3 linked regions of the Homo sapiens genome follow. The protein of the gene in region 1 interacts with the protein of each later gene in a pairwise test. Each region holds a gene or a part of one and is shown on either strand. Other genes may lie near its edges. The genes, in order: PCDHB12, CCDC172 and USH1C.

What was found.
Region 2: the proteins of PCDHB12 (region 1) and CCDC172 interact in binary tests that used the Homo sapiens proteins (3 or more experiments, as listed by UniProt).
Region 3: the proteins of PCDHB12 (region 1) and USH1C interact in binary tests that used the Homo sapiens proteins (3 or more experiments, as listed by UniProt).

The regions. Positions count from the first base shown.
Region 1 is NC_000005.10:141,207,032-141,210,784, reverse strand, and holds the start of PCDHB12 (protocadherin beta-12 precursor), read right to left. Parts: upstream 2,067-3,753; 5' UTR 1,878-2,066; coding exon 1-1,877. UniProt on the Homo sapiens protein: Potential calcium-dependent cell-adhesion protein. May be involved in the establishment and maintenance of specific neuronal connections in the brain.
Region 2 is NC_000010.11:116,327,328-116,331,080, reverse strand, and holds part of CCDC172 (coiled-coil domain-containing protein 172), read right to left. Parts: intron 1-3,753.
Region 3 is NC_000011.10:17,542,881-17,546,633, forward strand, and holds the start of USH1C (harmonin), read right to left. Parts: upstream 1,537-3,753; 5' UTR 1,428-1,536; coding exon 1,392-1,427; intron 1-1,391. UniProt on the Homo sapiens protein: Anchoring/scaffolding protein that is a part of the functional network formed by USH1C, USH1G, CDH23 and MYO7A that mediates mechanotransduction in cochlear hair cells. Required for normal development and maintenance of cochlear hair cell bundles.

The sequences.
Region 1 (3,753 bases):
GTGCGCACCTCGCCATTGTGCGCCCACACGCCGAATAGCCCGGGCTCCGTGGCCTTGAGCAGCTGGTACGACAGCCAGGCGTTCTGGCCCGAGTCACCGTCCACCGCCACCACCTTGGTCACCAGGTAGCCCGGCTCGGCCGCCCAGGGCACCAGCTCGGTGCAGGGCGCGGAGCCGTTCTGCAGCGGGTACAGCACGAAGGGCGAGTTGTCGTTGGCGTCCAGCACCAGCACGCGCACCAGCGCCTCGCTGCTCAAAGCCGGGGAGCCGTGGTCTGTGGCGCCCACGCGGAACTGGAACCCCTGCAGGGCCTCGTAGTCCAGCGACCTGAGGGCAAACAGGTGGCCGTTGTCCGCGTTGATGGAGACCAGGGAGGCGAGGGGCAGGTGCGGGTCCTGGGACGGCAGCAGCGAGTAGTTGACCTGGGCGTTGGTGCCCGAGTCTCTGTCTGTGGCGCTGATGCTGCCGATGTGCAGGGCGGGGCTGTTGTTCTCGCGGACGAACAGGGCGTAGGAAGTTTGGGTGAAGGCGGGGGCGTTGTCATTGACGTCGGAGACCAGCACGGTTATGTTGTGCTCGGTTTTTAGCCTGGGGGTCCCCAAGTCGGTGACGGTGATGGTGATGTTGTACTCGGCTCTGCTCTCTCTGTCCAGCGGTCTCTCTGTTTCCAAAGTGTAGTAATTATTTACCGAAGATTTTAGCACGAATGGGATGTCCTCCGGGATAGAACAAACCATCTTTCCGTTGTCCCCAGAGTCTCTGTCTCGTATCCTGAAAACCATAACCACAGTCTCTGGAGTGTTTTCTGGGATTGGACTGGTAATTGATGACACAGTGATTTCAGGAGCGTTGTCGTTTACATCCATCACCTGAATTCTGACTGTAGATTTTCCAAAAAGTCCTCCCCCATCTGTGGCTTGAATGATTATTGAGTATGACTCAATTGCTTCAAAATCCAAAGGTGCTGTTAAAGTAATGTCACCAGACTTTTGATTAATTTCAAATGTCTTGCGAATATCTTCTGAGGCATGGGAAAAGGTATAGGATAGTTCACTGTTTGTTCCAGAGTCTAAATCCCAGGCTGAGACGGTCACAACCAGGGAGCCAAGGATGCTATTCTCCAGAATCTTCACCTCATAAAAAGCCTGCTCAAACTCAGGGGAGTTGTCATTAATATCTACAACCACCACCCTGACCAAGGCAGTTCCAGACCTGGGAGGGGACCCGCCATCCAGAGCAGTGAGGATGAAACTGAGCTCCGGGCGCTCTTCATAATCCAGCGCCTTGTCCAGAACTAACTCAGGGTATTTCCTATTGTCTGGATTGACTCTTATTTTAACGTGGAAATGAGAGTTCGGATTTATTGTGTAGCTTTTTACAGCATTGATTCCTACATCTAAATCCTTTGCACTTTCAAGCAAGAACACAGCACCAACAGGACTGTTCTCTGGGATTTCTAAGAGCATTTCTTTTTCCAAGAAGACGGGAGAGTGATCATTTATATCCCTGACCTGGAGCTCAATTTGTAAAAACTGCGTGGGGTTTTTCATTAACACTTGGAAATACAGCACACAAGGCTCATTGGAGCCACAGAGCTCCTCCCTGTCTAGCATTTCTCTCAGGAGCAAATCCCCAGTGTTTGTGTCCAGCTGCAAACACTCTTTGTTATCATTAGAAACCACCCGAGCCCCCCGCGAAGACAGCTCACTCACCTCGAGTCCCAGGGTCTTTGCCAAATTTCCTACAAAGCTCCCGCTCTGCAATTCCTCCATCACCAAAAAGTTCCCAGTTTCAGAGCCCGCCTGAGACATTCCCAGCAAAACAAAGAAAAGCAGGACTTGCCTTATCTGCAGAGTGCCTGCCCCTCCGTTTTCCATAGCTTCTTTTCCAAAACCCCAAAATCTTCTTGCAGAATTGCCTCAGCGCCTCTTCGCAGTTGTGGGAAACGTGCCTCTGATCTGTCTACCAAATCCTCGGAAGCCTGAAGATTTTAACCTTGTTGAATGGCTTCTAGGTTCTCCCTTAAAGGATTGTTCTTTCTGTCTTCCCAGTTCTCCGCGTGTACTGGATAACAGGGTCTACAACATCCTCCAGGGTAATTTTTTTCTTGATATTATCCTGCAGCGCCACCACGCGTCTCCACAGATTTTCACAGTTTGATGAACACTACCTAAATTTTATTTACATAAATGTCCTCCAGAAGCAAATAAATATTGCGTTTAAATAATTCCTTCTGTTGAAGTAATTAAAAATATATTTTATCTTCCATAATAATCGTTTTATATTCTTTATAGTTTGTGATGATGATTTTGTTTTAAAGCATTTATTCAGTGTCTTTCCCCACTCTTCTCACAACCAAATGTGTTCAGTTGTGGTAAACACAGATACAAGATGTGATCCCTGGCTCCCAGGAATTCATAGTGTTTCTGAGACAATTGTAAGCCTGAAACAAGCAGGGTATAAGTGATTGTTAAGCTGAATGAAATTCTATTACTACTTGGCTTTCCTTACGTGATAAGGTAAAGGAAAGGTCATCTCAGAAATCCTTTCTGAAGTTATGAAACTGGATTAACCATGAGATGAGGCATATATAGGTCAACACAACAGCATAAAAAGGCACTTCTGTAGATTTCCTTAATAGCAATGAATTGTGAACAGGCAGAAAATGAAGCAAGAGATTGGGGTGGAACATGTTATGTAAACCCATCATTTAGTTCCAGTTTTTCATAATTTACAAAAAAATTCATAAGTACACAAGCATGAGCAAGTTAGTTTAATTTAAAGCAGACTCTTATTCCTAAAGCTGACTTGCCTTAGGTTCCCAAAATTTATTGTAGCCACAACTGTAGCTATCTGTTTTCTCTTTCAGCCCAGGAAGAGAAAGTAAGAGTCTATCCCTAAACATAGAACAAAAACCTAACTTTCACTCTAATTAGACCAAGTAAGATCATGTGTCTGCCACTGAAGCAATCATTGTTTCAAGAGGTATAGAATTATAGTTGGAGATTTTAGTCCTAGAATCTAAAGACCTGTCTCTGGCCATTACTGTGTTTTAATCCTGTCTGGGACCACCTCTTAAGCTTGGGAAGGTTTCAGTCCTAGCCAAAGTACCTCATTGGTACAAAATGAGGGAGACTGTTTGCAACAGATGCTAAGGGCTCATCAGTGATATTCACTATAGAAAGTCTTAAAGTGCACTAAGAATGGATGGGAGAAGAATCCAACAAGTCTGCATTTTAAAATGTTAAATTCAATTAATATTCTTAAAAATGTAAGCTGGATACATGGTTGAAATAGTAATTGGTACAGAAGGGTAAAACTTGAAAAGTAGATGAATTGAGCACACACAATTAACCTCTCTTTTTAAAAAAAAATATGCACTAAAATGGCAGAAAAGTAATTAAAATGGTAGGAACTAACAAAGATTAAGAATACACAAGTGAACACATACATTTTTCTATGACAGAAAGCAGGTGGAAGAGCAATTAACTTAGCAGTTCCAAAAAGTGCCCCTAAAGTAAAGTTCCTGCATTGAAGATACTCACAAGAAACATAATCTCTTTTAAGCGCAAGATCTGGAGGAACCAGATGTTTAAGAAGACTGAAGTCAGTTAAGGATGGAAAAAAGTTATTAGTTGGAAGTATGTGTAGAGGATAATTGAATTCTCTGTTCTTCTCATCACCCTACATAGATGGAAACATAACTCACAGCCAGAAAATAGAAAGTTTATTCTCTGGAGAAATTTAATGGGA
Region 2 (3,753 bases), on another chromosome or scaffold:
TACAAATCTCATTAACATCTGGCTTAATGGAAGACAGCTGAGACCAGGTTTGGTGGTTCACGCCTGTAATTTCAGAACTTTGAGAGACCAAAGTGGGAGGATCACCTGAGGCCAGGAGTTCAAAACTAGCCTGGGCAAAATAGCAAGACCCTGTCTCTAGAAAACAATATATTTTTTAAATTAGCCAGGTAGGGTGGCAGAGGCCTGTAGTCCCAGCTACTCAGGAAGCTGAAGCAGAAGGATCACTTGAGGCCAGGAGTTTGAGGTTGCAGTGAACTGTTGTTGTGCCACTGAGCTCCAATCTGGGTAACAGAGTGAGACTCTGTCTCTTAAAAATAAATAAATAAAAACAAAAAATTAAAAAAGAAGATAGCTGGACTCTCATATCTGCTTCTACTCAATCTTTTGTAATACGTTTTTCAGTTGGAGAATACGGAGTGCACAGATATGTAGTTGGAAATGATTGTGCATATTCTTCTTTGATACTATATCAAAATTCACCATGTGGTAGCTCCTTAAAGGTTAGTTGCAATGTGGAATCTGAAGCCGTTTCAATGAACTTTTCATTCTATGTTATAATAAAATCCATTGGTCTACATTGCACTTTGAGTCTACCTTTTATCTATGCACAGTTTTGTAACTTTATGCATTACTTACTGCTTCCCTGAATTATGCAGATCCTCCAAATGTTGATATATTTCATAATATGCTTTGAAAAGTAACATTCTGAAACATCTTGAAACATACTGCTTCAAAAGTAACATTCATATTCATTAATATCACTAACGAACTCACCAGAAAAATCTTTAAGTACCAGGAAGCTGCCAAGCTGCCAAGATAGATAGGAATCCTCCAAAATTCTAATTTTTGTTTGAAAGCTTGCATATTATCATTGGCAAAATAATAAGAAGAATGTCAGATGTTTGCCTTGACATTTTAGGCTTACTTCATTTATTTTTCAGAAAATTTTGCCAAACACCCAAATCTAAATAACTACAACTTGACTGTCAATTATCTAAGTAAAAATGGCGTTTCAGAAAAAGAATAGCTAGCTCATACTGCATCTCAAACAACTGCACACATGCTCTCTCTTGAGACAATCGTGGCACTTCGGAATATAAAAGTACTTTAGATGTACCACCCATGTGATCGTACACAATATTGAAAATGAATATACTCAATGATCAGTTCCAATAAAATTAATATTTTTGACACTTCAATCAAAACATTAAGTAAAACTAGCGGTTTTTGTTTTCTTACTGAGAGTGCATGGCAGTGAAGAATACGAGATGACTACTAGTACAGTTTGGTGCCACCACCTCGATTTGTGTTAAGGTGCTAAGAGTTTTACTCACTGCTGCTTTTGCACTGTCAATGTGTGCATTAACATAGAGAAGATGGCAAATGGTACCTTTGTATAGTATTATCATAAAAATAGCTTGACCTTACAAACTCCCTGAAAGTGTCTTGGGGACCCCTTTGAACTCAGAGATCACACTTTAAGAATAATGCTCTAAGGTGACAACTGAGCAGAGACTTAGGCTAACCAACCATCAAGATTTGCATGGGGCTGTCCTAGTGTTAGCACTAAAAGTCCCACATGATTCTACTGGGAGAGATCTAAATGAAGTGAGCGTGCATGACAGAATAACAGCTAATGGAATCAGCATTTCAAGCAGAGGAAACAGCAAGTGCAAAGGCCCTGGGGTCAAAGAATGATTGGCATATCCAAGAAAAAACAGCCCATTACAAAGGTTCACACCCCCATAAACCTGACTGTCCTCAGGAAGGTGAGCTACTGGACAATGTCTAATACAATACTCAAAGGACACTCAGTGACCTTTTTTGCCTATTTCCAAGTTTTGGATAATTACTCATGACAAACATGATAAGGCTTTCTTTATAGAATTTCATAGAGAAAATGGAAACAAATTTTTTCTTTAAATGAGAACTTCAAAAATTTTGAGTTTACAGTTAGGTTTATATAGTTGAAATTGCTTGATGTCAATCCTGTAATTCAGGAAGGAAGGTGTTATATAATTTATTTGCCAAGTATTCATAGTGTGATTTAGCAGTTGCTCAATGAATGTTTGTTGAATGAATAATTGCCAACTATAAAATTAAATATTGGTAGGATCTAAATTTTTTTGATTAAGTGTAAAGAAAGAAAAAAGCACTCCAATTACAAAACTCCATTTCAATACTATAAATGATAATAATTTGTGATTTTGTTCTTTCTCCAATTAGGTAATACAGTACTAAAGGATATGACTTTGCCTGCTGTTCTGGAGGTTTCCTAACTTTTACCAATTAAAATAAAAGAACACATACATATTGAGGTAAAGAAGTAAATGGGGCCACCTTAAGTTACTTTTTAATTTCAATACAATTTTCCTTTAAAAATTCATGAAATATTCTTTTATTATTGTTATGGTGTTTACACAAGTTAAAATTGGAAACAGAAAAAATAAACAAAATATTCACAAAATAGCCTCAGATTTTCCTCCATTTACTCCCTCTTAAGGGAATATGGCATTATATTGAGTTTTATGTAATATGTTTATAAAAATTAAATGTCAAAATTTTAATTATATGCCATTTTTAAAAATAGAAGAAGCTCTTTTAGATGTTTAAAAGAAACTACCAATGTTCTGTCAGTCCTTAATTTTGGTTTGCCCTGTCATCAATACTATACAACTTTTCCTTAACTATCAGAAGTTTTGGATGTATTGGTAAGCATGAATGCAAATCCAGGGCATGTTCTCATTTTTCTGTTTTCATATTACCAAACCTAACCAGGCATAGTGTAGCTGTCCAATTCATAAAGTACTCATACTATATAACCTGAGACTTTTGCAACCATATATTTTAAAAGACTCATTGAGCCCTGCAAGGCAAATGCTATCATTCAAGTTCTAATTACATGCTATCCGGGTTTTACATAAAAGAAAAAAAATGAATACTGTACTTCCCAAATACATTTATTGACCAGAAACAACATCCAAAATAAATGCCCCCCAAATTTTCTGAATGTATGACTGTACAATAGCTCAAGCACTGCTCTATTCAAATTATGTTCTATTAATAGTTTCTCCTTGTGCTGCTACTGTTTGATAAATGGGTCAATAAATGCCAAGTCAAATATTCAAGTAAATATATTTTCATTGTTATTGGCAGACATATAATTAACTCAGAATAAAAGAAACAAGAAATCAATTTAGGATTAGTTCTTCAGTTCTTCCCATTAGTCATATGCATTATAATTGTGATTCCACTTTTAAAATCTTTATGCACATATACATACCATCTTGACTATAATACAAATCAAACTATTTCAGTTATAAATTAGTATTGTATGAACTGTGACCCTCATATGTTAATTTTATTAGTAAGATACAAATGTATTATTACCCACATATATGAGCTGGTTAAAAAGCAATGCATGCTTATGAACCTATATTAATTAGTAATTTCAACAAATGTTTCTAAACAATGGTAGGCCTTTTCTGTCTTCTTTCTAGTAAAAACAACTGAATCAACATTTTTTAATGTATGTGTATATATCAACAAATTACATTTCCATTTGCAGACAAAACAAAACTTTGCTAACAAAGAAAATATTACAGAGTAACATTAAAAAATATATTATATCAGGTCAATATCCTCACCAATCCAGGAAAAATGCATTTTGTACAAAAACTTGTATAAGCAACCTTTTAAAAATATTAACCTAAACAAGATACAAAACTTCAG
Region 3 (3,753 bases), on another chromosome or scaffold:
CAGCCCCTAAATTCCTGCTGAACTTCCAGCTATCACCCACCCCTGGGAGCAGGACCAGAAATGCCCAAGACCTTGTTTTCAGGAGCCTTCTGCCAGTTTGAGCTGTCCCTTTGTGCCCCTACAAAAGCTTGGCCTCAACACGCAGCACTCAGACATGGGTAATTACCAGGGTAGGGTCTGCCTCCCACCTACACCACCAGCAAAGGGCACAGACTGGGTATGGCTGAGAGGATGCTCAAAACATGCTTATTAAATGAATAACTGACCCCGGGCCCTTGGCCCCAAGCCCCTGTGGCCCCTACACTGGCTAGCTCCTTGGGCTCCTATGGGCCTCTTTATGGGAAGGAAGGAGTTAAGCACCCTGACCTGCCCTACCTGAGCTCAGCTCTCAAACCAGGAAGAGGTTTGGCTTGGTCTAAAGACACTGCCCCTGGGGTCTTTGGGAGAGCCTTGGGTCACACAGTTATCAATAGTTAAGTTATCAATAGTTACCTGCCCCTCAGGCAGGGCCTGTGGGGAGCTCCAGATACCACCCACCCCCCCCAAGCGGCTTCATCCCCAGACTCAGAGGCATCCTAAGACTTGGTGGGGAAGTAGGCTGGATCTCTTTGATGGCCCTCTCTGGTCTCAGGGCCTCAGCAGATTCTGCACAGCTTTGTGAATCATTCTCGAAATGCCCTGTGTGAAACCTGGCCACTTCCAGAGATGGTCCTTGAGAATCCCAGACCACCAGTGAGGCCCCTCACTGGGACACACCAGGGTGGACCCGGCTCTGCCTGAAGGATCTGGCCGGCCAGAGCCCAGCTCCGACGCCCTCAGTACCTCCTCCCTTCCTCCCCACCGCACCCGGGTCAGCACCAGCTCCTCAGCTACTTCTCAGACCCTAAGAAACGCCCTTAGGCAGGCAGGGCTGAAATGCTTCTAACTCATGTTCTGAGGTCAAAAGGCAGAGAGAGAGACGTCTAGTTTCCCTTCTCCCAACCCTCACCTCTCAGATACTGCCCCAGACTGTCTCCACATGCCTCAACAGCCCTGAGCTGGGGGCACTAGGAAGGAGAGGGGCTTGCCCACAAAGGGGGCACCTCAGAAAAGCGGCCAAGACTGGAAGGAATTCAAACCCCAGAGACGTCCCTGCCCCTGGAAGGCAGAGGGAGAAAGGCTGGCAGAAGATCGACTCGTTTAGCAGTCCTTGAGCCGGGAGTCCCCGCATTCCCTCCCTCACTTTACTGGGGATCCCTGCTGCCAGCCAGACGACCCTCGGGTGTCCCAGCCCAACCAGAGCCATCAGGTGGGGCCGGAAAAGGGAGGGGCAGTGCCGGGGTGTCCACCCCCTACCCACCGCGCCCAGGACTCCGGAGTCCCAGAAGCCTGGGGCGCCCTGCAGCTCTGACCTTATGCCGGAATTCTCGGGCCACTTTTCGGTCCATGGCTGGGCCAGGTCCAGCTGCGTCGTTGCACGACCCGTTCCTTCGGGTGCCCGGCTGCCAGGAGCTGGAAAGAGCCGCGACCGCGACCGGGCCAGCCGCCCTCGGAGCTGGGGGCGGGGCCTGAGCGCGGAGGGGCGGGGCCAGGCCTCTGTGGGGCGGGGCCGCTGCGAGGCTGGAGTCGAAGGTGCTGAGTCGTCGCCTCCCACTGAAGCCTGGGAGCAAATGGGCCCCAGTGTGCCTATGGGCCTGAGGTGGCAGTAGCTGGGCTTCAAGCTGGTATTTCTCTGGAAGTGGTACCTGAACACATGCGTTTGAGGAAGAAGATCGTGGAGACGTAGGGAGGAGGTTTGGGACTTTTTTGTGGGGACCGGAATAGAGAGATACGGAAACTATTTACACGGGCGGGGGGCGGGGCAATCTAGTCCGTTTTCTCTGGATATTCTTTTTTTTTCCCCCCCGAGACGGAGTCTCGCTCTGTCGCCCAGGCTACAGTGCAGTGGCATGATCTTGGCTCACTGCAAGCTCCGCCTCCCGGGTTCACGCCATTCTCCTGCCTCAGCCTCCCGAGTAGCTGGGACTACAGGCGCCCGCCACCACGCCCGGCTAATTTTTTTTTTTTGTATTTTTAGTAGAGACGGGGTTTCACCGTGTTCGCCAGGAAGGTCTCGATCTCCTGACCTCGTGATCTGCCCACCTCGGCCTCCCAAAGTGCTGGGATTACAGGCGCGGGCCACCGCGCCCGGCCTTCTCTGGATACTCTTGTCGAGGTTCATGGCCCTCCTGGACTGTCAGCCCTTGCTACGCCCTCACCTCCAGCGTACCTTCAGTCCTGGCTTCCTCCTGCACTTTTCCACCAGGGAGAAATCAATCCTTGTTCTGTGAATTCCTTGGGGACAGGGCTGGGTTTTACTGTGGGCCGCAGGGGTCTGAATCAGTGTGTGTGAGAGTGCCCCCCTCAACTGATTTCCCCTCCCACCTTCCCTAACACCTCCACCCCCAACAAAACAAGACAAAACAAAACCCAAACCCAACACACTCACATATCCATCGAAGCCTGGCAGAGCCTGGCAGTGACATTTTGATCTATGGCTGACCTTCACCCAGGGCCCAGACCCTCTGGTTCATTTAATTCAATTTGGTCAGCATTTGCTTAACTCCTAGGTCTAGTGCTTGGTGCAAAGACAATGATGAACCAGGCCTGGAAAGGAATGAAAGGAAAGATTCATCAAAGACAATGATGAACCAGGCCTGGAAAGAGATGAAAGGAAAGAGGGGCTAGGAGAGGGGTGATAAAAATGTGTAAATCAGAGGCTAAGTATGGGGCTTGTGCCTGAACTTAACCCAGGGAGGCACCTGAGCCCTTTGTGCCCTGTCAAGGGCAGGGGCAAGGAGATGGACAGCAGCTTACATCAGGTAACCACTTACAATTGTAACTCTGGGGCACCTAAACACCCCTCTGCGTCCCTCTCCCCAATAGCTGAAGTTTTACAAGCACACTATTTTTGTTGCCTAGTTTAAGATGTAAATCCCTCTTGGAGAAGAACCTTAAAATATGATCTGTTTTCTCACCTTAGCATTAACTATTAAGTCAGCGATAAAATGGAAAGACTTGTGGGATTTTTGAATGGTCCAGAAAAGGCCACACAAAATGCATTCCCCTCCGACTTACTTCATTGATTCTCTACATTGGAAAAGAATGTCATATGGCTGTTTATTTTGTATTTAGAATCCTGGCAGAGGTGAATGAATGTCCTTATCCAGGGGAATGCTGTTCACCTGCCACACCAATCCTTATTTTACATTGGCCATTACCCCCACAGACTCCCTCCACCTTAAAATGCCCCCTGCTTTGTTTTGAGAATAGCATTGAGACCTGGTTCTCCTCTCTCATGAATTTTTGTTTCAAGCTTCCTTGGAGACAATCAGTCTTTGCCTGTTCCTTAACCAGCATTCCTTAAGGCTCCATCCTTAGCTCTTTCCTCTTCATCTTCCTATCTGTGCCCCCAGCTTCCTCCTGTGTGAAGATAGCTGTGTTTGCTTTATTTACCACTATATGCCTAGAACAGTGCATGGCATGGAATCAATGCCAAACAAATTTGTTGAGTGAATGAATGAATGAATGAATGAATGAATGCATCTCAAATCTATACCCTTGCCTAGAAGTCTACTGGGGCCAATACCACCACGACCACCACCACCACCATCATCATCATCCTCTGTAAGACCTAGCATCTAGTTGGTGTTCCCTAAGTGATGACGAAGTGAATGATGTACAGATTCCCCAGGTGCTCAGTCCCATGTTTTTGCCATTTTAAAATTCCTCCTG